Linked DNA regions of Homo sapiens. The protein of the gene in region 7 interacts with the protein of the main gene of each other region in a pairwise test. Each region holds a gene or a part of one and is shown on either strand. Other genes may lie near its edges. The genes, in order: TMEM14A, ADIPOQ, COMT, TMEM128, ATP5PF, TNFRSF10C and KCNK5.

The links.
Region 1: the proteins of KCNK5 (region 7) and TMEM14A interact in binary tests that used the Homo sapiens proteins (3 or more experiments, as listed by UniProt).
Region 2: the proteins of KCNK5 (region 7) and ADIPOQ interact in binary tests that used the Homo sapiens proteins (3 or more experiments, as listed by UniProt).
Region 3: the proteins of KCNK5 (region 7) and COMT interact in binary tests that used the Homo sapiens proteins (3 or more experiments, as listed by UniProt).
Region 4: the proteins of KCNK5 (region 7) and TMEM128 interact in binary tests that used the Homo sapiens proteins (3 or more experiments, as listed by UniProt).
Region 5: the proteins of KCNK5 (region 7) and ATP5PF interact in binary tests that used the Homo sapiens proteins (3 or more experiments, as listed by UniProt).
Region 6: the proteins of KCNK5 (region 7) and TNFRSF10C interact in binary tests that used the Homo sapiens proteins (3 or more experiments, as listed by UniProt).

What each region holds. Positions count from the first base shown.
Region 1 is NC_000006.12:52,681,113-52,684,100, forward strand, and holds part of TMEM14A (transmembrane protein 14A), read left to right. Parts: intron 1-700; coding exon 701-802; intron 803-2,965; coding exon 2,966-2,988. UniProt on the Homo sapiens protein: Inhibits apoptosis via negative regulation of the mitochondrial outer membrane permeabilization involved in apoptotic signaling pathway.
Region 2 is NC_000003.12:186,841,540-186,845,509, reverse strand, and holds the start of ADIPOQ (adiponectin precursor), read right to left. Parts: upstream 2,801-3,970; 5' UTR 2,761-2,800; intron 1-2,760. UniProt on the Homo sapiens protein: Important adipokine involved in the control of fat metabolism and insulin sensitivity, with direct anti-diabetic, anti-atherogenic and anti-inflammatory activities.
Region 3 is NC_000022.11:19,940,380-19,944,603, forward strand, and holds the start of COMT (catechol O-methyltransferase), read left to right. Parts: upstream 1-1,424; 5' UTR 1,425-1,518; intron 1,519-4,224. Other genes in the region: TXNRD2 (thioredoxin reductase 2, mitochondrial isoform 5 precursor), read right to left, coding at 1,322-1,424. UniProt on the Homo sapiens protein: Catalyzes the O-methylation, and thereby the inactivation, of catecholamine neurotransmitters and catechol hormones. Also shortens the biological half-lives of certain neuroactive drugs, like L-DOPA, alpha-methyl DOPA and isoproterenol.
Region 4 is NC_000004.12:4,241,724-4,245,223, forward strand, and holds part of TMEM128 (transmembrane protein 128), read right to left. Parts: intron 1-3,500.
Region 5 is NC_000021.9:25,724,905-25,728,404, forward strand, and holds part of ATP5PF (ATP synthase peripheral stalk subunit F6, mitochondrial isoform a precursor), read right to left. Parts: intron 447-3,500; coding exon 322-446; intron 1-321. UniProt on the Homo sapiens protein: Subunit F6, of the mitochondrial membrane ATP synthase complex (F(1)F(0) ATP synthase or Complex V) that produces ATP from ADP in the presence of a proton gradient across the membrane which is generated by electron transport complexes of the respiratory chain.
Region 6 is NC_000008.11:23,101,655-23,105,720, reverse strand, and holds the start of TNFRSF10C (tumor necrosis factor receptor superfamily member 10C precursor), read right to left. Parts: upstream 2,801-4,066; 5' UTR 2,600-2,800; coding exon 2,540-2,599; exon of another isoform or gene 2,163-2,539; intron 1-2,162. UniProt on the Homo sapiens protein: Receptor for the cytotoxic ligand TRAIL. Lacks a cytoplasmic death domain and hence is not capable of inducing apoptosis. May protect cells against TRAIL mediated apoptosis by competing with TRAIL-R1 and R2 for binding to the ligand.
Region 7 is NC_000006.12:39,194,976-39,198,475, forward strand, and holds part of KCNK5 (potassium channel subfamily K member 5), read right to left. Parts: intron 1,013-3,500; coding exon 901-1,012; intron 1-900. UniProt on the Homo sapiens protein: K(+) channel that conducts voltage-dependent outward rectifying currents upon membrane depolarization. Voltage sensing is coupled to K(+) electrochemical gradient in an 'ion flux gating' mode where outward but not inward ion flow opens the gate.

The DNA.
Region 1 (2,988 bases), about 13 Mb from region 7:
GTCACTGCCATGTAACCCACTGTCCAGTGCACAGAAAGTGCTTGGTGTTTGCCACAGTGCTCTGGGGTGGGTATGTGGGTTGGGGGCTGGGAGTGTACTGGTGGGGTGAGTGCATGGGATAGGGACTGGGTAGCTGGGGTCAGTATTCTGATTCTTCGTCTTTCTTGGTAGGGCCTCTATTAGTCCTTGAGTCCTGACATCTTGAGGCATGAAGGTTTGTTAATTATTCAGGATGGAACCATTGCTTGGTTTGTATAGCACTTCTGTCTTTACCTCTATAAACTAAAACTACCTTTGCATCTTAGTTTTTATCATCACAACCTCATTGCAAAAAGGAGGCAAAGAGAATAGGAAAAATTAAAAAAGAAGGGCTTAAGGAAGTTAAATAATTGTCCAAGATCATGTAATCAGTGTCCAAGCCACCAGAACAAGGCAGGTTTTCTTATTTCCCCAAGTGACATCTAACCCCACTGCACTGCTGTGCCCTCAGGGCTCCTCTGCCTTGCATTTGGGTTCAGCAGGAAACAGTCATCTCCTAGAAAGTATCCATGAAGAGGCCTATTCTTAATTTGGCTTTGTCCAGTTACTGTGCCCAAGTAGGAATACATTTGAAGGTGCCTGTATCATACTAGAAGTAATGGAATGAATTCCTTTCCTTTTGGGATTCTCTTTGTGATCTCATATTTTTTTCCCCTTCCAGGTGGTGTTCCGTCTTTGATTGCTGGTCTTTTTGTTGGATGTTTGGCCGGCTATGGAGCTTACCGTGTCTCCAATGACAAACGAGATGTAAAAGTGTCACTGTGTAAGTAAGGCATTTTTCCTGGTTACAGAGACTCAAACATTGGAGGTGATCTTTTTGATACCCTATGCTAGATATACTAGAACATATTTAGTCAAATGGCAAATGGCCATATGCATGTGTTGAGGCTGAATACAACACTTATTCCTTTCTAGAAAGACCTGATAAAAAATGATGGTACTGCTACCAGGCCTTCCAACTCAGAAGAATATTTCTATAAAAACTCGTTACTAGAAAAATTGAATTAGGAAAAGCAAGGAATTATTTTCAGATTTTCTGCTAACTCTCCTAAATGCATATTTAGCATAGTTTTTACATTGCTGTGGAAATAACTAAAAAAGAGACAGCCTTGCATTATTTCATTTAATTCACAAACATCTTTTAGATTCTGCACTGCCTTAAGACTTAACCTAAAAAAGCAAGGCTGACGCTTTTTTAGCTACTTCCCTTGTTAAGTTTAATGGGAGAATATCCACAGAAAAAATGGAAACCTGTGTGTTTAAAGTCACCAGGACACTTGACTTTCATCTCACTTGAAAGAGATACACAGTGAAGATTTAGAAAACCATACCAAGGACATTTTCTCTAGTTGATTTATTATTCAAAGTGCCTTGGTCGTGTATGGAAAAAAATATAAATGAAGACAAAATTGTTCTATATTTGAAGGAGAGTGAGAGATTTGGGGTTTTTTTTTTTTTTTAGTTATTTTTATAAGGGGCTAGGGATATTTTTAGTAATGAGGTTGTGTTAGATGTATCAGCCAGATGTAGTGATATTAGGATTTTTATTGATATGCATTTAAATAGTTCACAAGTATTTATTGTCAGTCATTTTATTTTTTATATCAATAAACAGTTTTTCTTTGAAAGCTGTTTTTAAATTGTGGCATTGATGTCCTAATCTCTTACATAAAACTACCTCTCCCTTCATAGATACAGCTCCAAAAAGGCTGACATGATGCTTCTGAATAAAATACTATTGCTTAGACTATTATTTAGTCTCCAGGCATCAAATTCTCCAAAATGGGATGCTACAAAACAAAACCAATCAGCCTTCTTTTTAGTATTTTTTTTTTATTAATCAGATCTTACTTGTAAAAGATACATTAACTATTTTCTTTATATTCAGTTAACTGAACATTAATGAGTGTCTCCTGTGGGTCCAAGTGTGCTACTTAGTGTTTCTGAGGGAAGTTGAATAAAGCTCAGTGCTAGCCTTCAAGGCGTGTTCTTTGAATAGAAATTTAGGTTAGAAAAAGACTTTCTTAGCTAGGCATGGTGGCTCATGCCTGTAATCTCAGCACTTTTGGAGGCTGAGGCCGGTGGATCACTTGAGGCCAGGAGTTCAAGACCAGCCTGGCCAACATAGCAAGACCCTGTCTCTACTAAAAGTACAAAAATTAGCTGGATGTGGTTGTACATGGCTGTAATCTCAGCTACTCGGGAGGCTGAGGCAGGAGAATTGCTTGAACCCGGGAGGTGGAGGTTGCAGTGAGCTGAGATCACGCCACTGTACTCCAGCCTGGGTGACAGAGCAAGACTCTGTCTCAACAACAACAACAACAACAACAACAAAAAAAAAAAAAAGAAAAAGAAAAGGTCTTTCTCTTTTGAAGATATTTCAGGAATGGATTTTAACATGTTTGTTTACCCAGAAACCTTTTCGGCGAGGTAGATGATGATGAAGTGTTTCTTTGTTTGTTCTTTTGTTGTTTTTTTGAGACAGAGTTCGCTCTTGTTGCTCAGTCTGGAGTGCAGTGGCGTGATCTCAGTTCACCACAACCTCTGCCTCCCCGGTTCAAGCAATTCTCCTGCCTCAGCCTCCCGAGTAGCTGGGATTACAGGCATGTGCCACCATGCCCTGCTAATTTTTTTTGTATTTTTAGTAGAGACGAGGTTTCTCCATGTTGGTCAGACTGGCCTCAAACTCCCAACATCAGGTGATCCACCCATCTCTGCCTCCCAAAGTGCTGGGATTATAGGCGTAAGCCACTGGCCCGGCCATGAAGTGTTTTAATAGAGCACTTTATCTTTTCAAGACAATGGCAACTCAGTACCTATCCATAATAGTTGTAATGTTAGAAAGCTTTAAATGGTACCCGCTGTTTTCCCACAAGCATTGATAACATGTTTGAAACTCTGGTTCATGAATTAGTTTGGTTTTCAGTTACAGCTTTCTTCCTGGCTACC
Region 2 (3,970 bases), on a different chromosome or scaffold from region 7:
ATTCCAGCTACTTGGGAGGCTGAGGCAGGAGAATCACTTGAATCCATGAGGCAGAGGTTGCAGTGAGCTGAGATCGCGCCACTGCACTCCAGCCTAGGTGACAAGTGTGAAACTCTGTCTCAAAAAAAATAAAAATAAAAATAAATAAAAGTCAAAGTGTAGAATATTGGCAGTTTCACACGGTGCAACCCAATAATAAATGGCATAACCAGGAATCAACTCAGCTTTGCCTAGCTCCCAGGAGCTTTGCCCGAAAGCCTTCACTCAGCCCTGGGAGAGCTGTCAATATCTCCATGCCCAACACACACACATACCCGCACCCATACACACACCTCCACCTATGCACGCGCACACCCACACACCACATCCACACATCCACATACGTACGCACCACCCCCCCCCACACATACACACCCATCCAAATGAGTGTGCGCGCGCGCACACACACACTCACACACATACATACTGTCAAGGAACTAATAAAACAGAGCATCCCACGCACCACCACATTTTTAGGATAAGTCTCTCTCCACATGATTGAATTTCTGATTGAAATTCCTGATTGAAAGTATCTCTCCAAAAGACATCACCTCTTGACTTTAGCCGTATGTCTGGGACCACCGGTCCACTGGCTTGACAAGGAGTAGGTGGAAAGTTTGTCCCTACAGCCACCTTAAAAAGAGCAAGCATATAATCCCAGCCTTTTGGGAGGCTGAGGTGGGAGGACTGCTGAGCCCAGGAGTTTGAGGCCCCCCAGCCAATATAGTGAGACCTCATCTCTACAAAAAATTTTTAAAAATTAGCCAGGCATGGTTGCACACACCTGTAGTCCCAGCTACTCAGGAGGCTAAGATGGGAGGGTCACTTGAGCCTGGGAAATCGAGGCTGCAGTGAGCTGTGATTGCACCACTGCACTCCAGCCTGGGTGATAGAGTGAGACCCTGTCCCCAAAAAAGACAAGGAGCCAGTCTTGTGTCTATTTTTTTTTTTTTTTTTTTGAGATGGAGTTTTGCTTTTTTTGCCCAGGCTGGAGTGCAATGCTGTGATCTCAGCTTAAGACTCCTCGGCCAGGCGCAGTGGCTCACACCTGTAATACCAGCACTTTGGGAGGCCGAGGCAGGTGGAATATGAGGTCAAGAGATCGAGACCATCCTGGCCAATATGGTGAACCCCATCTCTACTAAAAATATAAAAATTAGCTGGGCGTGGTGGCGCATGCCTGTAGTCTCAGCTACTTGGGAGACTGAGGCAGGAGAATCGCTTGAACCTGGGAGGCGGAGGTTGCAGTGAGCTGAGATTGTGCCAAAAAAAGACTCCTCAAGACTTAAGGAAGAGTGGCAGCAGGGACTGCTGAGGAAGCTGCCGGGCTCCCTGTGTACCACTGGCCTTCATGAACAAAGCTGACACCATCATGCTCCTTCGGACATATTCTGCTAGCATAAAGGGACCCCCATCTCCCCAACCGAATTAGGCAGAGCTGGCCTTCCTTCTAGCGGAGTTCCTAGGAGTGAGTTGGTGCCACCCCTTGTGAGGCTTGATCCAAAAACCAGAACCTCTCCAGACCAGGGATCCATGTCCTCTAACACAAGAGGGGCAGACCTAACCTCTAAAATCCCTCCCACTCTAACCTTCAGCATCCACAGCTCAAAACAACCAGGATGCCTCAGAAACAGCACTCACTGGGGCGAGCAGGATTAGGCTTCAGAAAAACCAGGTAGATCCAGTTTCTTCTGTCAGAAAATGTTTTTTTTTAATTACAATTTTTCATAAGTTGCCACTATATGCCAGGCTTTTCTCATTTTATCTCATTAGAGCCTCTTTTTCTTTTCTTTCTTTTTTTTTTTTTTTTGACACAAAGTCTCGCTCTGTCACCCAGGCTGGAATGCAGTGGCAACAATCTCGGCTCACTGCAACCTCTGCCTCCCAGGTTCAGACAATTCTCCTGCCTCAGCCTCCCGAGAAGCTGGGATTACAGGCACCTGCCATCACGCCCAACTAATTTTTGTATTTTTGGTAGAGGCGGGGTTTCACCATGTTGGTCAGGCTAGTCTGGAACTCCTGACCTCAGGTGATCCACCCGCCTCGGTCTCCCAAATTGCTGGGATTACAGGTGTGAGCCACCATGGCTGGCCTCATTAGAACCTCTTGATTACCTTGTAAGATATCCCTATACCTACATATATCCCCAAATCCATAGACAACAACCATGTCACACTCATTGTATCTTGTGAACCCAATCCACTGTCTAGCCCATAGAATTTGCTCAGTAAATATTTGCTGAGTAGAATAAAGTGGCAGAGCTGGATTCCTAATTCCAGTCTGAAGTCAGTGCTCAGCTTGACTTTTCTGAAGCTGCCTTCATATATGCTTCTTCCTTTGCCCTACCTGGTCAAGCTAAGAGGCAATGTATTCCCTTATCCCCCTTAATCGAATTGGACTTCATCTGTGGACAGACCCTTCCACCTTACTGACCCTAACTTTTTCTCAATAGGTATCCTGCTACAGAGCGAACTGGGCAAAATTCAGAATGGTTCCATGCATCTTAGAAGGAATGTCTGAAATAACCCTTTCTCTCTTGGGGCTGTGGGAGAACGGAGGAAGAAGCCCAGTGCATATCTGCCTCCACCAGTGCTGCTCTGACCAGAGTATCCACCTGTATCCACTCCCACACTACTACGGACGGGAGAGCCTGGGTGATCCCAGCCAGAGGCTATGCATGCATCCCCCACCCAGCCTGGAACTTCACAGAATTGCTCTTACCCTCTGGTATGGAATCAGAACCACAGACTGCAGTCAGAATGGAAGTGAGGAGGAGATGGCCCAGCCTCAACAGCCTGGTACTCACGGGGGCAGGCAGTCCCCACCTCACAATTGTCATTTCCCATTGGCCAACTCAGTGAGGGCCAGAGGCCGGTGGGCAGGCACATGTCCCTGGCAGTTGCCCACAGCCTGCACCCTAGGGAACCTGGTACAACCCAGCTTGGGCTTCGGAAGCCAAGTGGAGCTTCAGTCAAAGCACTTGTGTTTCCAGGCCTTGACCCTTATTTTGCCTCCTACAACAGCAACAGAAGATGGGGCAAAAGTCAAAACCACAGCAGGAAAACAAGATTTTTTTCCTGCATCTGACGGAGAAACTTCCTAATGTAAATGAATTAATTGCTCAGTGGTCCAGGAGGTCTCCCCCTCCCATAGATTTGCCCTAATAAGTCAGGGACGCCAATTATCACACCACAGTCTTGCTCACTGTGCATGATTAAGTCTGAGACTGTGTACGTTCAGACAGTGAGTGCTTCAGAAGGGAGCACTGTCAGAGGGGTCTGCAATCAGGTAAGAAATAGAGCACATCCTCCACTCTCTGACCTGGACCCTGGATTTAGGAAAGACCTTGCACATGAATTCTGAGAACTGGGGTGTGGGGAAGTTCCTGGAGTGGTGTGGGGCTTGGCAAGTTAAAAAGGCCCTGAATTCTTAAAGCTTGTGGCCTCGAATCGTAATTTGAATCTAATATAATAGAAAACTTACATAAAATGTGATATTGGAATACCATCTTTCAAGATTTTTTGGTTCCAAAATTTCGGATAACATTTTGACAGCTACCTTGGTATGTGTGTGTGTGTGTTTGTGAGAGAGAGAGAGCCTGTTTTTCCAGTTCCTTAAGCATATATATGCCTATTCTGTCTCTTGTGGAACCCAGCTCTGGCCTAGAAGCAGCCTGGAGAACTGGAAGCTGCCACCCACTTAGGTGTTCCTAGAAAGTTTAGGCTTGAAGTGGCAACATTCAACACCTTGGACTTTCTTGGCACGCTCATGTTTTGTTTTTGAAGGGCAGGATCTGAGCCGGTTCTTGCAAGCCACACATTCTGATGAATTAAATTACGACCCCAGCAAGGGCTTAGGATGCCAGCACCAACTTCAACAAGACATCCAAAACAGAATTTTCTCAGACAGAGGCAGGGCAAGTGTCTGCCTG
Region 3 (4,224 bases), on a different chromosome or scaffold from region 7:
TTACTGGGAGGACCAGGATCATCATCCTATTTTGCATAGAAGGTTCAGTTTGTTCTTTCCCTTAAAATAGGAAGATAAGGGCATTATCCCCCTAAGTCTCGTATGATATTCCCCATTCTGAGTCCAGAATACCTAGAAATTTGGAATTTGGCTATTGCCGTGTCTGGACTGTGAGTATGGGAAGGGGAAGCTTTTCTGTCTGTTGTCCCCACTACCGCCCCTCACATCCGTGATTCTGAACCCCATGATAAATGCCCTTTGAACCTTTTTCCTCCTTTTGATGCCGAATCCCCTTTTATGGGACTCCGCCAGCACGGGTGCATTTAACCTTCCTGAGCTTGCCCACCTGACGCATGCAGCCAAGAAGCTTTGAAAGATGGAGTGCCCTGGCTGAGGGTTCCAGGTCTCAGCAAGGCCACGAGGTGGTGACTGCCTCCCAGAACTCTGTTGGGCCACCCTCCGTCCTGGAGACCCCCAAAACCTCCATAGCACCAACTCTGCCCATTCACACACACAGTCAGCCCTCCCTCCCGAGTCCACCGCGGGCAGAGGGCCAGCCACCATGCCTCCCATAGCCGCCATCCCTGGGAAGGAGCCCTGACCCCGTCCTTACACCCCTCTACACTCACTGCCTGTGGGGAGAGCTGCTCGCTGTCACAAGCATCCAGGGGGCTGGGTCGAGGGGCCCCCTGCATGGTGGGGGACCATGTTGTCGTGCATGGAATGAAACTGGCCACACATAACAGATATGGTGGCGCTCTGGTCGGATCTAGGGGAGTCTGTCCTACAGGATGAGGCTTGAACTGTCCTGAGTGACCAGACACCCAGCCTCTGCTTCGAGTGCTCAGTTATGATTATTGTCCTGATTTAGTTAACTGTTCTTCAGGGGCTCCAGGAGGACGAGTGTGTATCCTCCCATTGCTCTGTGCAGCCTCTAACCTCTAGAGTCTAGGGGTCTGGGGAGAAGTTGGGAAGTCTGGCCAGTGGGGCCGGTGCCTGGTGACCTCGGGAGGTGGGATATCATCATCTTCAGAACTGTAGTTGTTACTGGGATACCAGCTCTGGGAGACCACAGGTGCAGTCAGCACAGCAGGACCTTAGACAAGGCACCCAGCCCCAGTTTCCCCACCTGGGAAGGGGGCTACTTGTGGCTAGAAGCAGCCCGGACTCCTGAGCAAGACTAGACCAAGAGGCCGGTATGTGGACACCCCCGCGTGGGCACCCCCACGGGGACACCCTGGCCACCGCCGCGCGGACACCCTCACGAGGACACCCCGGCCGCGCGGACACCTACCGCGGGGACGCCCCGACCCCATCCTACCTGCTGCGCCCCGCGCCGCGCCCCGCACCCCGCCCGCCACGGCCTGCGTCCGCCACCGGAAGCGCCCTCCTAATCCCCGCAGCGCCACCGCCATTGCCGCCATCGTCGTGGGGCTTCTGGGGCAGCTAGGGCTGCCCGCCGCGCTGCCTGCGCCGGACCGGGGCGGGTCCAGTCCCGGGCGGGCCGTCGCGGGAGAGGTGAGAGCGCTGGCTAGACCGGGGCCGAATGCGGCCGGATTCGGGGCGGGGGCCTTCAGACCTAGGGTGGAACACTGGGATAGGGTGTGGGGAATTCGGACCGCTGTGAAGTGATCTGACGTTGGGTGGGAGTCTCCGGACTTGGGGTGGGGAATCTGGATGGGAACTGGGGAATTCGGACCTTGGGTGGGGATCTTTGGACCGGGGTGGGGTCCCCAGACTCCTTGTGGAAAGCTGAGGTTGAAGATCTGTGCTGTGATGAGGGGCTCCAGATAGCGGTGAGAGATCCCGCTTCAAGACTGGGTTGGGGGTCCAGACCAGGAGGATAAGCCTCTCCCTGGAGTAGGGCTTGACCTGGTGAGGGTGTGGTAGAGTCACAGGGGAGGGTCCCACTTGGTCCTTGGGCTGGGATCAGACTCTCAGAGCTGGAGAGTTGCAGGAGGCCTGGGGGAGGGTCTGTGGAGCCCCAGACTCAGAGGGCCTTGGTGACTTCTCCAACAGGCTCCCTGTTGGAGGCCTTGGGGTACCCCAGGGCCTTTCCCTGCAAGAGAGAGGCTGCTCCACCAGGAAGGGGCCCAGGACTCCCCAGGGTCGGGGGGATGTGTGGTGTGCAGGACCACGTGGGAATGTTAGAGAAAGGGGAAGTCACTCCGGGCCTGCCCTGCTAACAGACCTGCTTTTTGGATTTTTCCAGCCAGGGATTTTTGTGTCCTGTTGCTTTTTATTGTTTAAAGTGACCCTCCAAGCCTGAGGGACCGTAGGAGCTGCCCTGCAGAGCCCAGTGAGACACTAGTTAATGCAGAAAAAACAGATTTTACTTGGTAACTACTGACAACATGAGAAAAAGCTGGCTCCATGCTGATTTGTCTAGATGTGCCTGGAGTTTAAAGGGAGAGTGAGGGAGTGGGAAGGGGTGGGGACTCAGTAGAGTTAGGGAAACAGAAAATCACCAAAACTGGGAAGGGAGGGTTGGCCCCTGTGAAACCAACTGATCTGGGTTTGCCACTGGGGCTTACCGAAGTCAGGCCCCCAACCTCCCACAGAGACTGGGAGACAGGGGCCCCATCCTCAGGTGTTGGCTGGAACACACAGGAAATTCTTGTGGCAGCCTTGAACTTCTCAGGCAGGCACTTTAGAGGGGGCTAGGATCGTTCTGGGAATGTGGCCTTGAGCTGTTAGGAGCTATGTTAGTGTTCGTTCCAGCCTAGATAGGCCAGGGTGAGGCCCAGTGGAGAAGGGGACTCTAAGGAGCCTGGCTGGAGTGTGGGGAGGGAGGGTCTTTGTCAGCACTCCCCCTGTGCAAGAAGAGCAGAGACCTGCTTCTTTCCTCTCAACAGTCCCCGTCCATTTTCTGTTCTGTGTTGTGTTCATAAACTACCAGCGGGACCATCTGTTGAGACTTGGTAGCAAAGGATTTTTGCTGGATGATGCAAGCAGTCAAGCATTTAATGAGGAAACAAAAATAACAGGCCAGGCACAGTGGCTCATGTCTGTAATCCCAGCACTTTTGGAGGCCGAGGAGGATCACTTGAGGCCAGGAGTTTGAAACAAGCCTGGGCAACATAAAGACCCCATCTCTACAAAAAATTTAAAAATTAGCCCGGCGTGGTGGCATGGGCCTATAGTTCCAGCTACTTGGGAGGCTGAGGTGAAAAGATCGTTTGAGCCTGGGAGGCGGAGGCTGCCATGAGCCATGATCTTGCCTCTATACTCCAGCCTGAGCAACAGAGAGCCCCTATCTTTAAAAAAAAAAAATAATAATAAAATAAAAAAATAAAAAGAAAGAAAGAAATAAAAACAAAGATGAATGGAGCTGTTGATAAACCCAGTTTTTGAGCCTACAGGGCAGCAGTTGAGGTTTCTGGCCGTTGGGCCCTAACAAGGCCAGCAGGGGCACTCAGGGACTTCCTGGTGTGTGGTGTGAAGTCTGTGATGATGGCATAGGCATTGGTATCCCAGTTGTGGTTACTTTCTGGAGAGAGCATGTGGCATGCAGGAGCTGGAGGGGGGGTCTTCCTGGGCGGCCTGTGTAGCAGCAGCTCCAGGCACAAAGGCTGCCCCTGGAGAATCTGTTGTGGTTCTGAGTTCTTTCAAGTTTATATCAAGTTTTCCGGCTTCAGTCTGCAGGGCTGTTTTTTTCAGATCCTGGGGGCAAAGGGCAGCTACAAGACCACCTGAGTCCCAATAGGGATTTGAGTTCTTGGTGACACCAAGTCAGGGAGGAGACAAATTAGAAATGTCAGTCTGAAGAGAGTGGTAGGTAGCCAGATACTGAAGGAAAGTAGATGGGAGGATTTGGTAAGGGCTGACGTGTAGGAAGGCAGTGACAGTCCAAGTGACAGGCAGATCATAAAACCTCAAGGATAGGCCGGGCCCGGTGGCTCATGCCTGTAATCCCAAGCACTTCGGGAGGCCGAGGTGGGCAAATCACCCGAGTCCAGAAGTTCGAGACCAGCCTGGCTAACATGGCAAAACCCTGTCTCTACTAAAAATACAAAACATTAGCCGGGCGTGGTGGTGCACTCAGGAGGCTGAGGCGGGATAATCGCTTGAACTGGGAGGTGGGGGGCTGCAGTAAGCCGAGATCGCACCACTGCACTCCAGCCTGGGCAACAAGAGCGAAACTCCATCTCAAAAAAGAATTAGGCCGGGAGCGGTGGCTCACGCCTGTAATCCCAGCACTTTGGGAGGCCGAGGCGGGTGGAT
Region 4 (3,500 bases), on a different chromosome or scaffold from region 7:
AACTTGAGCAAGACTAGTTTTGTGACTCTAGGCAAATTACCTAACCTCCGTGTGTTTCAGAAATATTGACAGTACTTAACTCAGAATAGCTGTGAGAATTAAATCAAGTGGTCAGCAAAGTGCTCCTCACAGCTGACTCTCAATCATAATCATTATTATTCCACTCAAGTTATTTTTATTTTCATTCATTTATTTCTGAGCCGGAGTCTTGCTCTGTTGCCCAGGCTGGAGTGCAGTGCTGCAATCTCAGCTCACTGCAACCTCCGCCTCCCAGGTTCACCAATTCTCCTGCCTCAGCCTCCCAAGTAGCTGGAATTACAGGCACTGGCCACCACGCCCAGCTAATTTTTGTATTTTTAGTAGAGATGGGGTTTCACCATGTCCATATTGGCCAGGCTGGTCTCGAATTCCTGACCTCAAGTGATCCACCTGTCTCAGCCTTCCAAAGTGCTGGGATTATAGGGGTCAGCCACCATGCCCAGCCATCACTCAAGTTATATCTATGAGGAAAAAATGTCCATGTTCATCTTTAGGAGTCTTCAAAGACCTCTCTTCTGCTAGAGCATGCAATCTCACTGGGGGGAGTATCGCCCCCAAAGTGAAGAAAAAAATATGGCTCTAATTGTATGTATAAAGCATAGATATGCATGCAGTATATAAATGATATAGTTTATCTAATTCCACATTCCACAGGAATGATTAGGAAAAAAATGTCTAAAAAGGCCTTTTATCATTACCCCTAAGGAGTCTTTTTAGACATTTTTTTCCTTTGCCAACATGTGGATATGAGAAAAAAAAAATTTTTTTTTTTTGAGACGGAGTCTCGCTGTTGTTGCCCAGGCTGGAGTGCAATGGCACGATCTCGGCTCACTGCAACCTCCACTTCCCAGGTTCAAGCTATCCTCCTGCCTCAGCCTCCTGAGCAGCTGATATTACAGGTGCCCAACACCACACCCAGCTAATTTTTGTATTTTTAGTAGAGATGGGGTCTCACCATGTTGGCCAGGATGGTCTTGAACTCCTGACCTCAGGTGATCCATCCACCTTGGCCTCCCAAAGTGCTCGGATTACAGGCATGAGCCACCATGCCCGGCCTAAGAAAATTTTTTAAACTGCCTGAACAAAATATAATACTATCAGTCAGTGGTCCTCGGCCCTGGCTTTATATCACAGTCACCTTGCACCTTTCTAAGAGAAACTACCTAGTCCCCAGTTTCCAAAATTCTGGGCCTGAGCATCTAGGATTTTAATTTTACTTTCTGTCTTTAACTCCACTGTTGATTTTGATGCACACAAGCCGAGTATTTTAAACTGTGATTTCTAAAGCATCACAGTGTTGTTTTGTTATTATTTATTTACTTATTTAATTTTTTTAAGACGGAGTCTCGCTCTGTCGCCCAGGCTGGAGTGCAGTGGCGCGATCTCGGCTCACTGCAATCTCCACCTGCTGGGTTCACGCCATTCTTCTGCCTCAGCCTCCCAAGTAGCTGGGACTACAGGCGCCCGCCACCATGCCCAGCTAATTGTTTTTTGTATTTTTAGTAGAGACGGGGTTTCACCGCGTTAGCCAGGATGGTCTCGATCTCCTGACCTCGTGATCCGCCCGCCTCGGCCTCCCAAAGCGCTGGGATTACAGGCGTGAGCCACCGCGCCTGGCCTGTTTTGTTTTTAATATGGACCTGCTCTCCCATCTTTGAACAATATAAAGAACCTTAAGGCCTCAAGCTTCTAAACTTAGGCTAGAGCCAGAGGAAAAAGAAATCACCTCAGGCGTCAGAAGAACGAGCCATTTTAGCCATTTTCCAAAAGCAGAACTCAGCCGGCACTGTCTTTTGTGCAGCCCTCTCATTTCATGGCTGTTCAATACCCCCCAACTCCCCTTAATGAGTCCTTCCCAAGAAAACAATGCGACTCAAAATCCTCAGCCTTTGAGAATGCATTTCTGCCTTTTTCTCTCTAAGATGACACCTTGTTGAGGACAGATCTATGACTTCTACTTTCTTTCCAACCCCCACAGCCCTGGTCCCAGTGTCTGCGTCCCGGCTTTGCCACACAGCAGTTATGTGGTCCTGGGCACTCCACTTCACTGCAGTTGCCCCCAAATATCTTATGTGTGATCATTTCTTACTCTGCCATTTCTCTAAACTACTAAAAATACCCAATATAAGGACACAAATACAGAAGTTCTCTCACATCTCCTAAAACCTCAAAAAGGTCTCAGTCCTGAGGCTGACCTGGACTAGATATCCCTCCTAGATGCTCCCATGATACCCTGCGCCTACACTTACAAAGCACATACCATGCGGCCTGGTAACTTGTCTGCTGCAGCCTAGAATGAGCTGTTGGAGAGCTAGAAATGCACCTTCCACGTGTTTGGCACTGACAGCCAAACACATCTCAGCCTCCATAAAGTATCTGATGAAGGAAAGAGCAGCTGCTATTGGTGGTGGTTAAAGTACCCATCCCCTCCAGCCAGGTGCAGTGGCTCACACCTGTAATCGCAGTACTTTAGGAAGTCAAGGTGGGAGGATCACTGGAGCCCACAAGTTTGAGACCAGCCTGGGCAACATGAAGAGACCTCGTCTCTACAAAAAATAAACCAAATTAGCCAGGCATGGTGGTGTGCGCCTATAGTCCTAGCTACTTGGGAGGCTGAGGTGGGAGGATCACTTGAGCCTGGGAAGTCAAGGCAGCAAGCCATGATCGCACCACTACACTCCAGCCTGGGTGACAGAGTGCAGCGAGACCCTGTCTCAAAATAAAAATAAAAATAAAGTATCCATCCCTCTTTTCCCAGCCCAAGTTCTAAGAGAGATGACTGAGTCAAGCTGATGAAGATTAAATGTCTGTTATACTGATGCAGCCGTGGGAAGAATATGGCTTTGGTGAGTGATGACAAAGCACTTCCTAATACTGGGTCTCTGACACCCAGAAACAGCCTTACCCACTGGGTTCCAGGTCAAAATGAAAACCTAGAGACCTTTTCCTGTGGGGACTGCCCCTGTGGAATGACACCATGGGAAGGCAGACCAGACTCTGCGCTTCCTATGGGCAGCCGACTTGCAGCAGAAGAAGGTGCTGAGCTACCTTTGTCCAGTTCTTCATCACACACTCAATCAGTCACGCCACCTCCCACAAAGGAGTGAGTGACATGGAGGGGCAGAAGATGGGAGTGTTTAGGGAAAGTTTCTCCCCTAGAAAGTAGAGGACAGTTTAAATAAACTCCCCTCTGCCTACTTTCCCCTGTGGGCTTTTTCCTTGTGGCTCGACAGTCTCCTCCGCCAGAAGTCACTGCTCCTCCTGAAGGCCCTTGAGGAGAAATCATGTGTCCTGCCATGATACGAGGGGACCACAGTCCTGTCTGCATCTTCCTACCCCCACTGGTACTTCCAAATTATTACTCTTGACCCTAAGCACACCAGCCCTCCCAATGCCATGATGCTCACCAACATACCTCTCCCTTCCATTTCTTATCCAAGGGTCTCCACATCACTCTCCAA
Region 5 (3,500 bases), on a different chromosome or scaffold from region 7:
TACTATAATTCTCCCCAAATGTCAGATGAGGAGACATGCACCAGTTAATTACTCAAGATTACACAGCTGAAAGTGATTATAAGGATTCAAGATTGGGCAGTTCGATTTCAGATCCCCACCATTTAATCACTATGTTATGTGATCTCCTATACTGCTCTTATTCTAACAGCAAACATTTAGCCGGCAGCTTCTCAGGCACACGTCATGGTCCTAATAAATTCACATGTCAACACTGTCATTCAGTTCTCTAAAAATCCAGGTAAGTGTAAATATTCTTCACTTATCCCCCACAAGAATGAATCTGTGATTTATAAGACGTACCTTCAAATTTGAAGGTGGGAAATGTATTCATGTCTGCATTACCAAACATTTGCTTGAGCTTAAAAAGCTCCCTCTCCAGCTCTTGCTGATACTCTGAACTAGCATCAACAGGTCCTCCAGATGTCCTGTTAAGTAAATGAGCAAACAAAAATTAATTTTGTGTACTAGCTTACAAAAACAAAATTACTTTTCACCACCACATTCCAACAGATCTTTTTTTTTTTTTCTTTTTTGAGACGGAGTCTTGCTTGGTCGCCAGGCTGGAGTGCGGTAGCATGATCTTGGCTCTCTGCAACCTCCGACTCCCTGGTTCAAGCGATTCTCCTGTCTCAGCCTCCCAAGTAACTGGGATTACAGGCACACGCCACCATGCCCAGCTAATTTTTGTATTTTTAGTAGAGAGGGGGTTTCACCATGTTAACCAGGATGGTCTCGATCTCCTGACCTCATGATCCGCCCGCCTCGGCCTCCCATAAGTGCTCGGATTACAGGCGTGAGCCACCACACCCGGCCAATAGACCTTTTTAAAGCATTCATGTAGTCAAAGAAAAGACTTCAGAAAGAAAATAAGTATTTCTACTTCAATTTCAATTCAAACTATTTTATTACGATGAGGTTTCACATAAATGAGGTATCCTCAAACCAATCTCTAACATTCAAGGTTTCTCAGAATCACGGACACTCACTAAGTCAGAATTTCTCAGGGTCTAAGTTGCAAAAGGTGTATCGTTAAGTCTACAGGCTCTGGAGTCAAAGACTGGTCCTGTTTGAGTGTAAGTTCAACTATTCAGCAACTGCGTAAACCTGAGTAAGGCACAGAGCACTCTAAATTTTAGTTTCCACAACTAAATATGAAGGTTCTACCAAACGAGGGTGTAAATGCACACGTACCTCTAAGCACAGTGCCTGGCACACAGTGAGTACTCAATTATTATCTACTAATATCATCTGCTTTAAGTCAGCCATCACTAAATGGCTTTTAAAGACCTTAGACTTTTAAGTTTCTACCATAGGGGTCCTATTAAAGAAGCAAATTATTTCCTACCCTCAGAGATTTTGCAATTTCGAAGAAAAAAATTACATGTTTACAAACATTTATGCTGTAAAGGAGTGATGTGATGAGCTTCAAAGACATGATTTAACAAAAAGCTATTCAAGTTGAGGAAGAGATTACTTTTGCTAAGCTAATCAGGGAAAATTTCATTTTAAAAAGGTGGCATTTGAGAAACATCAGGCATCTGGGGCCAGGGTTTATTTTGAGACCTTCTAAGATGGAAAAAGCAAAGACATAGAGGTGGTAAGGGATTGGCTGTATGTGGGGAATGCTAAGGAGTCTAGATGGAAAAACCAGCAGACCCCAGATCATGGGAGGCCCGGAATGTTAAGCCTGGGAGTTTGTATTTTATTTGCCAAGCAATAAAATGACAAAATTAGACTTGTGCATTTTGGGAAAATAAATATAGCATTATGGACCAGCAGCAGGGCCAACTGGGTCTCATTAATTCTTTGAAGAAATTCTTCTGTTTTTGTCATAAATACTACTGCCTACCTAGCAATGAACAATATTCTAAATGTAAAAAAATGTACACATGAAAATTCCTTCAAGGGTAATAACATTTTTACACATGCCTATGATCAAAGTATACAGTCTTATTTAAGTTAAAGAACATGCACAAAAAATACATAGGTGGCTCCAATTTAAGAACTTGTTATCAATATTTCTTGTTAGAGACCCAATTTTCTTTTAGATTAGCACTGTCCAATAGACCTTTTTGTGATGTTAGAAACGCTCTCTGTCTGTGCTGTCCAGTGTGGCAGCCACTAGCCATATCTGGCTATTGAGCACTAGAAATATAGCTAACATGAATGAGAAAATGAGAAACTGAATTTATAAATACACTTAATTGTAATTAGAATTTGAATAGTCTCATGGATAACGGCAACCAAAATGGACACTGCGGTTCTAAATAGATCCTTCAACTAGATACTCTAATACTGGTTACAGATGGATGATGGCTATTTTAACTTTAATATGCACTCTTGTGATAAAAAGAGGCCAGAAATCATCTACCTCCTCAACTGAATGTAAGTCTTGCTGCTTATCTTGCTTATTACTATATTCCTAGGCTCTCACATGATGCCTAGGACAAAGCAGTCACTCAGAAGATACTTGTTCATTTCACTAGCAAATACTAGGCATGCTAATGTATTGAATAATTTAATTTTTATAATATCCTATGAAATGGGTAAGTACTACCATCATCCTCCTTTTACATATGAGAAAACTGTCCTACAGAAGTTAAACCTGCCCAAGGTCATAGAGCTAATTAGTGGCAGTGCTGGATGCCAGCCCAGGGTCTACCCTCAGAACTCTCCATGTGTTTGTTTGCACAAACGAATGAATGACCCACAAACAAGACTCCTTAGATATAGGGTACACCTAAGAATTCACTTCTTACTAGATAGGCTTTTAAAGACAGTTAAAATGATGCAAACAGCATCAATACTCTAATATAACACCACATTTGGACAGAAGACACTCAAAATTCCCTGACGAGTCCTGCACATCTGGTTACTTAACAGTATGATTTTTGGCAAATTCTAACTTTCAGCCTTGGTTTTCTCATATATAAAATTGGGGTAACATCTATAGGGTTGTTGTCAGAGTTTCATTACCATGTCTACAAAGCACAGAGTAACTTACTACATTTTAATCCCTTCACTATTTCTCCTCCTCAGTTTTGGCAATGGTAACACCTTTGTTAGTTACCTCGCCTCAAAAGTCAGTTTTCTTTTATTGTTCCCTCTTCTTCCTCTCCAGCAGCTCACCAAAACCAGGCATCAGTGTTTCAATGTCTTGACTCTGTCACTTTTACATTACCACTGCTATAAAGTCAAGGTTCTCATCAACTAATGCTTAGGTTACATTTTGCTAACATGTCTGTCTTTGCTCTCTTCTCATTTCAATCCTTCCAATACCCTGGTTAAAATTATCCTCCTAATTCAGAGTAATCTTCCATCCCCACAGTCATGTTCAAAAAGCTGTAATTTCTCACAAATGCCTACCACATATCTTACTTGCTCAGTCTACAATCAAGGCCTTCCATAATCCCTCATTCTAACCCCATACCATCCTTATACTCTTCATATACCCTATACTCCAGGGAAATAGAATTATA
Region 6 (4,066 bases), on a different chromosome or scaffold from region 7:
CACTGCCCTGCCACTCCTGGATACACGACAGAGGACCAGAACTGGGACTGTGGCCTCTCAGTACAGCCTGGGTGAGTAGCCATCTGCAGCCACCTGGATGGAGACATTTCCTGCTCACTCTTCAAACTACAACCCGGGCCAGGCGCCTACCAGAAGGACAACTGGAAGCATGGCAGGTAAACCAGGCTGTGGCCCTGCAGTGCCATCGCTGTCCTCACTTGACGTCTGGCTCCTCTGTTCCTCCATGGCCCCTCCCCGTGGTGCTCCACCCTAGTCTTCAGAAGCTTCTGCCCCAAGCTCAGGGAGCAAGTACCAGGGTGCAGGTAGGAACAGGGGCAGCCTCTGCTGGATGGAGGACAGGTGCCTGGGGATCCAGTCCAGAGTGAGTGACACCAGCCCTGAGGATGTGATTTGTCCTCCCACACCTGGTAACACAGCCCTCTGAGGTTTACACAGGGCTGCTGAAGATTTTTACCTCCTCTTCACTTTACAGGCAGGAGCTGGGGCCACACCAGAGTCACAGAGCCAGAGGGGGAGCACGGCAGGGCCCAGCCATTCACAACCTTCAATCTCAGGAGTCCTTGACAGCCTGAGAGTCCGAGATTCTGAGCCGTTGGAACTTCTCAATTCCTACTTTGATAGAGAGAGGAATGGTGTGGAAGGACCTGGCGCACAGATTGGACCAGCCCAGCATTGACAGAGCCAGGACCTGGGGTCAGGAACTGAACTCAGCTCCAGGCTCATCTGAAGTCACCCTGACAGGCTGAGGATGGAGACCTTATCTCCATTCACAGGCATGGTGGGTGGCAGGGACTGGCCCCAACTGACCAGGGTTTTCCAAGTGCACAGCTCAGAATTCAGTCTTCCCTGCTGTCTCATCTGGATACCCTGGTCTACTCCCAGTACCAAAAAACTCCTATATCCTTGAAAATTCCTAATACCATGAGGAAACAAAAATACATAGCAATGTGATGTGTTATGTTTTACATCTTAGACTAGTAAAGAATGAAAGCTAAGTGTAGCAAAGGTGTAGGGACACAGGCACATTTGTGGACTAGGTGTGACTGTAAGCTGGGTTCAGTGGTTTTTTGGAGGAAAATTCGTGAACATTTAAAGAAACTTCTGAAGTCATTTATCCCACAGAAGGAGAAGTAGAATTCAACTTGTAAGGAGTTGCCCAATAAGCTGGTGTGCATGGATATGTGGACACACGATACATACAAGGGTATTTAGTACAATGCTGTTGGAATTAGCAAAGGCCGTCAGGATGGGATCTAACCAGCTGCCCCTAGGCGGCAACAGTGAATTAAAATGTGGCTTACCCATGCAGTAAAATACAATACCCTTGTTTAAAAGAAGATCAATCTGAATGTACTGCCATAAAACATCTAATGTGATTTGTGTTAGCTCCAAAATTTAACAAAGTGATTGTACATTTAAATGCATTTAATAAGGCAAGACTGATGGAGGGATTAAAGCCTCCTTTGGGACGCATAGAGTTCACATTCCCAAAACCGTGAAACTGATGTTGCTGGCCTTGTCTACACTGGTCATCCATGCATTCTCTCTTCAGGGCCACTGTCCTGACACAGCCATTCTTCTAGCTGCCTCAGGTAAGTCCACCCACTATAAACTATTTTAAAAGTCAGTTGTGTAATTTTTGAGAGGTGAAAATGTTACTGCTTTTCTGAATTTAGCATTAATTTGTAGAAAGACAACATGCAAACTCTCATGGTTTCTGTAACCTTGCTTTGGCCTTTTCTTTTTCTTTTTTCTTTTTTTTGTATTACATAAAGAATCTTAAAAAGGGCTGTTAGCAAAAACCTCAATCAATCTGAAAGAGACCTAGAAGTCTGCATATTTTATACATAATATGTCCTTGCACTCACACTACTACCAATCTCAGTTTCCAAAGCCAACTCACAACAACTTTACACCGTTTATGCTGAAGGAAGGGGCCAGCCCCGGTCCTGCCTATGGGATACAGAGGGGACACACGGGTGGTAGTGGAAGACATTAACCAAGGCAGCACCTTGGTTAACCGCTTCCTGCCACATTCCGGCTTCCTGCCACTTTCAGGACAGAGGAGGTGAAAGTTGCTAAAGACAGCGCTGAAAAGTTTTTTCACTGGCTGTTGGTTAAACCGATCTCCAAGGAACACGTTTAAGAATGTAAACATGGGGTTAATTTTATTAACTAATTAATTAATTAATGAGAGAGGCAACCGCTCTGTGTCTTCAGGAGGCTCACTCTATGGGTTCCACCTTGACTCCCTCCCTCTCTCGATTCTGGAACTTCCCTCCCTTCGCGGGCTCGGGGCAGCCAGGGGGACCGCCTCTCTGCTCCCTCGCGGCCGGGTCCCTCCTGCCCAGCCCGGGGACCCAGTTCTTCCCCTGACTCCGACGGCGAGTTCGTCCTGCCCGGACATGCCCGGCCGCAGGTGACCAGGGCCAGGCATCCCTGCCGTGTCCCCGTCTCCCTGCCCCCTCCCGGCGCCAGGTGCGCTCTTCCCCAGCCAGGGACCGCGGCCGGGACTCACTGGCAGCAGGACCGCGACGATGACGACGACGAACTTTAGGGTCTTGGGGATCCGGGCCATGGTATGGTTCCCGACGCCGTCCTGGGTCCTGGGTCGCACCCTGCCTCGGCCATCAGGCGGCCGGGGCGCTCTGTCCCCAGAGTTCCCTAACGGTAGGAAGCGCTCCTTCACCCCTTGCATCTCTGGTCAAACTCCCAAAAATCTATCAGAAATCGTTGGCTGAGTTCGTGCGCGTGGAGAGGTTCCCACAGCTGCACTGCCAGAATCGGAGCGCAGCGCCTCTGAATTTATACCCGCGGGGGAAAAGGCGTGGTCACTTGTCACTTGCAGCAGTCACTTCCAAGCACTCAGAAAAGGGGCATGGCCTCCCCTAGCACCTCCAGGAAGGCCTGGGTTTTGGTGGTGGGTGCATGGACGGACAGGAACTGGCTCTTTCCGGCAGCGGTGACCCAGGGCCTGCGGTTTGATTCCGGGTCCTGTCCAGGCTGTAGGCAGCAGAAGGGGAAGGAGCTGAGGCGCTGCCCACTGCGCTGCTGTAGTCTGGGTAGTGAGCTCCAGAGGAGGCACTGGAGGCCCATCCTGAGCCTGCTCCCTCCCCGGGACGCCTGTCTCTCCTCTTCTTAAACCCTGAACTACCTCCTGGCCTAAGGACTTCAGTCCACTCTTAGCTTCTGCTCCCACTCCCTCCTCCCACAGCGGCCTCACTGACCAGTGCACTGATGCCACTGATGTCTCCAGCCTCCTTGCTGCTGTGACCCAGCTCCAAGCTTCTCTGGCAGGGGCTTGGTATCCCTCAGTAGCGGGTGCCTGGCACCAAGGAGGGGCCCAGTGAACACATGAGTGGACAGAATGAAGGACACAGGGGCCATGACGGGCACATGCAGAGGCTGAGGAGTAGGTAGGAGGGAGAGGAACCCCGGGGGCATCCCTAGCCACAACCTGGCACCCTTTGCATGGTCGAGGCACAGACACTCTCTGGCCGACCTTGTGGGCTCTAGTATTGAGGCCCCATGGACAGAGGAGGCCCAGGGGAGTGGCTTCCAAAGCCTGTCCCCCAGTCAAGTGTCTATCCAGGTCCAACTATCTGACCTTGGGCTACTCACCTCCCCATTGAGTTAAGCACACTGCTGCTGTGTGGAGAGATCCAATGTGTGGTACTGAAGGGTGCCAGCCTGTGACCCTAGGCAGTAAGGTCAATGGCACAACTCCTAGACCCTTGGGGTGAGTCGGCTCCTGACCTCTCACATGGTGGATAAAAGAGGATAGCACTATAGAAACAAAGATTTTTTTTTCTGCTCATCAGAAACCTGGGAATGATATGTCATCCTCTCCACAGGCTTGGATTTGAGCAATGGAGTGCCCTGGGCACCTGCCAGGCCCCAGGCACTGAGTTCGGATCAGAAATGTGTGCCAGGTCGCAGGCACTGAGAAATGTGTGGAGTCAGGAATGTGTGCTGGGGGCAGATCTAGGCAGGAGGTGAGAGGACAGGACTTCAGGAAGACTGACAGCATTAACACAGAGCCACG
Region 7 (3,500 bases):
TCCCTGAAGGCAGGGACTAAGCCTGGTCAACAGGTCTTCCACTAGTCTATATGGTACCACTGTGCAAGTTATAAGACATGCTCTCTGTGTAGATTCCCCAGAAGCACTGTGGTAGATGGTCTCCAAAGATAGCCATCCTCCATTCCCTCCCTTCTTATGCAACTGCTCACATCAAGGTGTCATCTAATCCTCTTCCCTTGGAATCTGGGCTTTAGTGGCTTGACAACAGAAGCAGTCTAGGCAGCGGAAGAGACGCTGGACAGGTGAGGTCTAAGAAGCCTGCTGCTTTTCGCCTTGGTTCCCAAACACATGCGGAGGCCTTGTGTTTTCATCCCCAGCTGAGCTCCCAGCCAACAGCCAGCATCAACTGTCAAATCTGTGATGGGAGGAGCCATCTGGGCCATCAGATGAGTTTGGCTTTCAGAAGACTCCAGCCCAGCCATTGTTCGACTGCCACTGCATTGGGAGCCCAAGCAAGAACCAGCCAGCTGAGCCCAGTCAAGCTGACAGAATGGTGAAAGAGAAGAAGCTGCGTTCTGAGCCAAACTTCTGGACTGGTTGGCTATGCAGCCTGAGAACTGAAACAGACACCCAGCTTGGTAAGTAGTCATGATCTGGGTTTCTGCAATGAGCAGTCTGGTTAATCTCTTGCATGGCTCTGGCCATGAGGCTGTGTCATTGTTTCTGCTCAAAGAGCCCAGGTCAAGACTCAAGGAAACCTTCCCAGGCATGATCAGCTACCAAGGACTTAACAAATCCCTAAGAAAGTATCAAAAGAATAGCCTGCAACTGATCTGATTGTACCCCCAACAGGGCTGAGTGACCAGAGCTGGGTTTCTAGAAAGGTTCTGAGGAGCTAGGGCATGGATGTGGGTGTCCTACAGGTCCCAGAAGACTTACCAATGGTGGTAATGACGGTCGCTGCAAAAATCATTGCATTGGGCCAGTTCCAGTTGTTGAAGGTCTGGTTCCCTGTGATGGCCACACCCTGTCCTGCAGCATCAGATACCACCTAAAATGAGAAACAGTAAAGGTCAGAGCTGAGGCCACACTTAACAGATGCTGATTGACAGAACTGCACTAAACTCCTTGTAAGCATTTTCATTTAGTCATCACAAGAAGAAGGTGGCAGTGTCTCCATGTTACAGATGAAACATTGTATAGAGGATCAGAGAGGTTACCTGATTTACCCAAGGTAAAGATATGAACCCAGGCAATCTGGCTCCAAAGTTCATTCTTTCACTGAGTCAATGCTTCTCCAACTTACTAGCATGCACCAGGATCACCTGGAAATCTTGTTCAACAGACTGCTGGCCCCTACTACTCCGAGTTTCTGATTTAGGAGGTCTAGAAGGAACATTTCTAAACATGTTCCCAGGTGATGCTGTGGACAGGGACCACACTTTGAGAACCACTGCACTAGATTAATTCTGCCTCTCAAAAAAAGCACATGTGAGGCAGACACACACAAGGAGGTCCCCTGTGCCTCACCCAGCCCTCCATGGAGGGTGTTCTACCTGCAGAGACCAGGTCCTTGTTCAGGGTTGGCTGGGGAGGGGCCCCCCATATACCCTTCAGCCTACTGTAGGATACCTGCTCAGGTCAGCTCAGTGCCCTGTTGACTTGTCCTCGGAGGGCATGCAAATCAGCAGGTCCTCCTTTCCCCCAGCCTAGGACTCTAATGTACCCTCTCCCCTGTGGGATCTCACTTCCCTCCCTTCCCTGTAGCCCTTTCTCTCTCTGCCCTGGGCTGAGCAGCTGTCTGGGAAGGGACAGATCAGAGGGTGAGTACATTTCAGGGTGACTCATAACTGTGCTATCAATCCCCAAAGAGCTTCCAGTAACTGTGGATAGCAGGTGAGAGGCCACCTGGGGATGGGATGTCCCCCTGGAGAGTGCGAGGAGCGGTGGGGCAGAGGTGTGGGGAACTTATCTACTCCTACAATACTGACAGCTGCAAACCTGTTTCCATCTGACTAGGCCCCAATTCTGCTATCACCACTGGCTCCAACCTATCTGTGGGGCTTTATCAGCTGGCAGGGCCTGGACCCCAGAAGTCACATAAGAAGGGACTCTAAATCTGGGGCTCAAGTCCTGTCCCCAAGGAGCGCCTGCAGATGGGTAGGCCATCCAGACCAGAAGCTAGGCATTCAGCCAAATTGCCTATAAAAACCAAGACAAGGACTGAGAGAGAAGAGACAGAAGAGTGAGGGATGGAAACAGAGGGAGACAAAAAAAACCTTGTTTCTAACCTACCCAGAGCATGACTGAGGTTTGGTGGGAAAAAAAGGGCATGGGTGGGTTGTTCTGAAGGAAAGTGTAATTTGCAGAAGCAGCAGCCGGCCTGCGTAAATGGATCTGCACACTCTGCAAAGAATTTTCCATGATGGCACGCTTGTCTGTCAGACCATCAAACCACACAGCTCACTGCGCTGCCTCCTCCGGCATTTCACAGCATCTCCGAGGCTACGAAGGCTGTGCAGCATCAAAGTGGAAAGTGGGGACCATCGCATCAAACTCTGGCCAAGGCAGCCCCTGCCCTCAGAGAGCTCTCTGTCTAGCTGGCCAGACCATTTCAATGTGAAATGGCTAAAGGACATTTAGATACTAACAGGCCAACAGGAGAGCTAAAACAAATACTAAGGACCATCCAATGGGTTTCTGAAAACATCAAATCTGTTTGGAGCAAGAGAATGAGGAAGTACCAGGGCCACGTTAATGTTAAACAGATGGCAGAGAAAGCGGAACCACCCAGCTCTCCTTTGGCATCTACCTTTGCTACCTCAGATATCGATCTTGAATGGGACCGGCCTACAAGAAAAGAGTATATAAGAACATACAAGAACATCTTGAAATGATAATTGAATCACTGATCACAGGTGAGGCTGCAGCACCACCTCTGGTCATCCCCATGGAATCATGGGGAACAGGAAAGATGTCAGAAGACAAGCTGTTCCCATTTTTCACAAAAAGGAAAAGAGTGGATTCTAGAAATTCAGAAAACAAACCTGAACTCTTGCAAACTTCAAAATGGGGAGAGGAGAATGTTTGGAACATGCAGAAGAGGAAGTAGTGGGCACTAGAAACTAGCACAGATTCACCCAGAACAAGTCATGCTCAGCTAAGTGCATCTCCTTTTCAAAGGGTTGCAAAGCCTTGAAGTTCTGTGGAATGTAATCCATCTAGATATCAGCAAGGCAGCTAACAGATGGGATTAAAGAAATTCATGTGGACAAGACACAGAAATGTCAGTGGAGCCAGGATTAATTGGGTCCATTCAAAGGCAGACAAACAACCCTAGGAGGTATTGATCATTATCAACCCAGACTGAGTCTCCACCATCATGCTTAAGGCCTGGTTTTCTTCAATATTTTAAACCACAGCACAGTGAGGACAGAGATGGTTTACTAATCCAATGTGCAGTGGATGCAAAATTGGGGATAAGGATGGGATGGGAAGATAGCTAACACATAGCAATGGCAGTATCAAGATTCAAAATC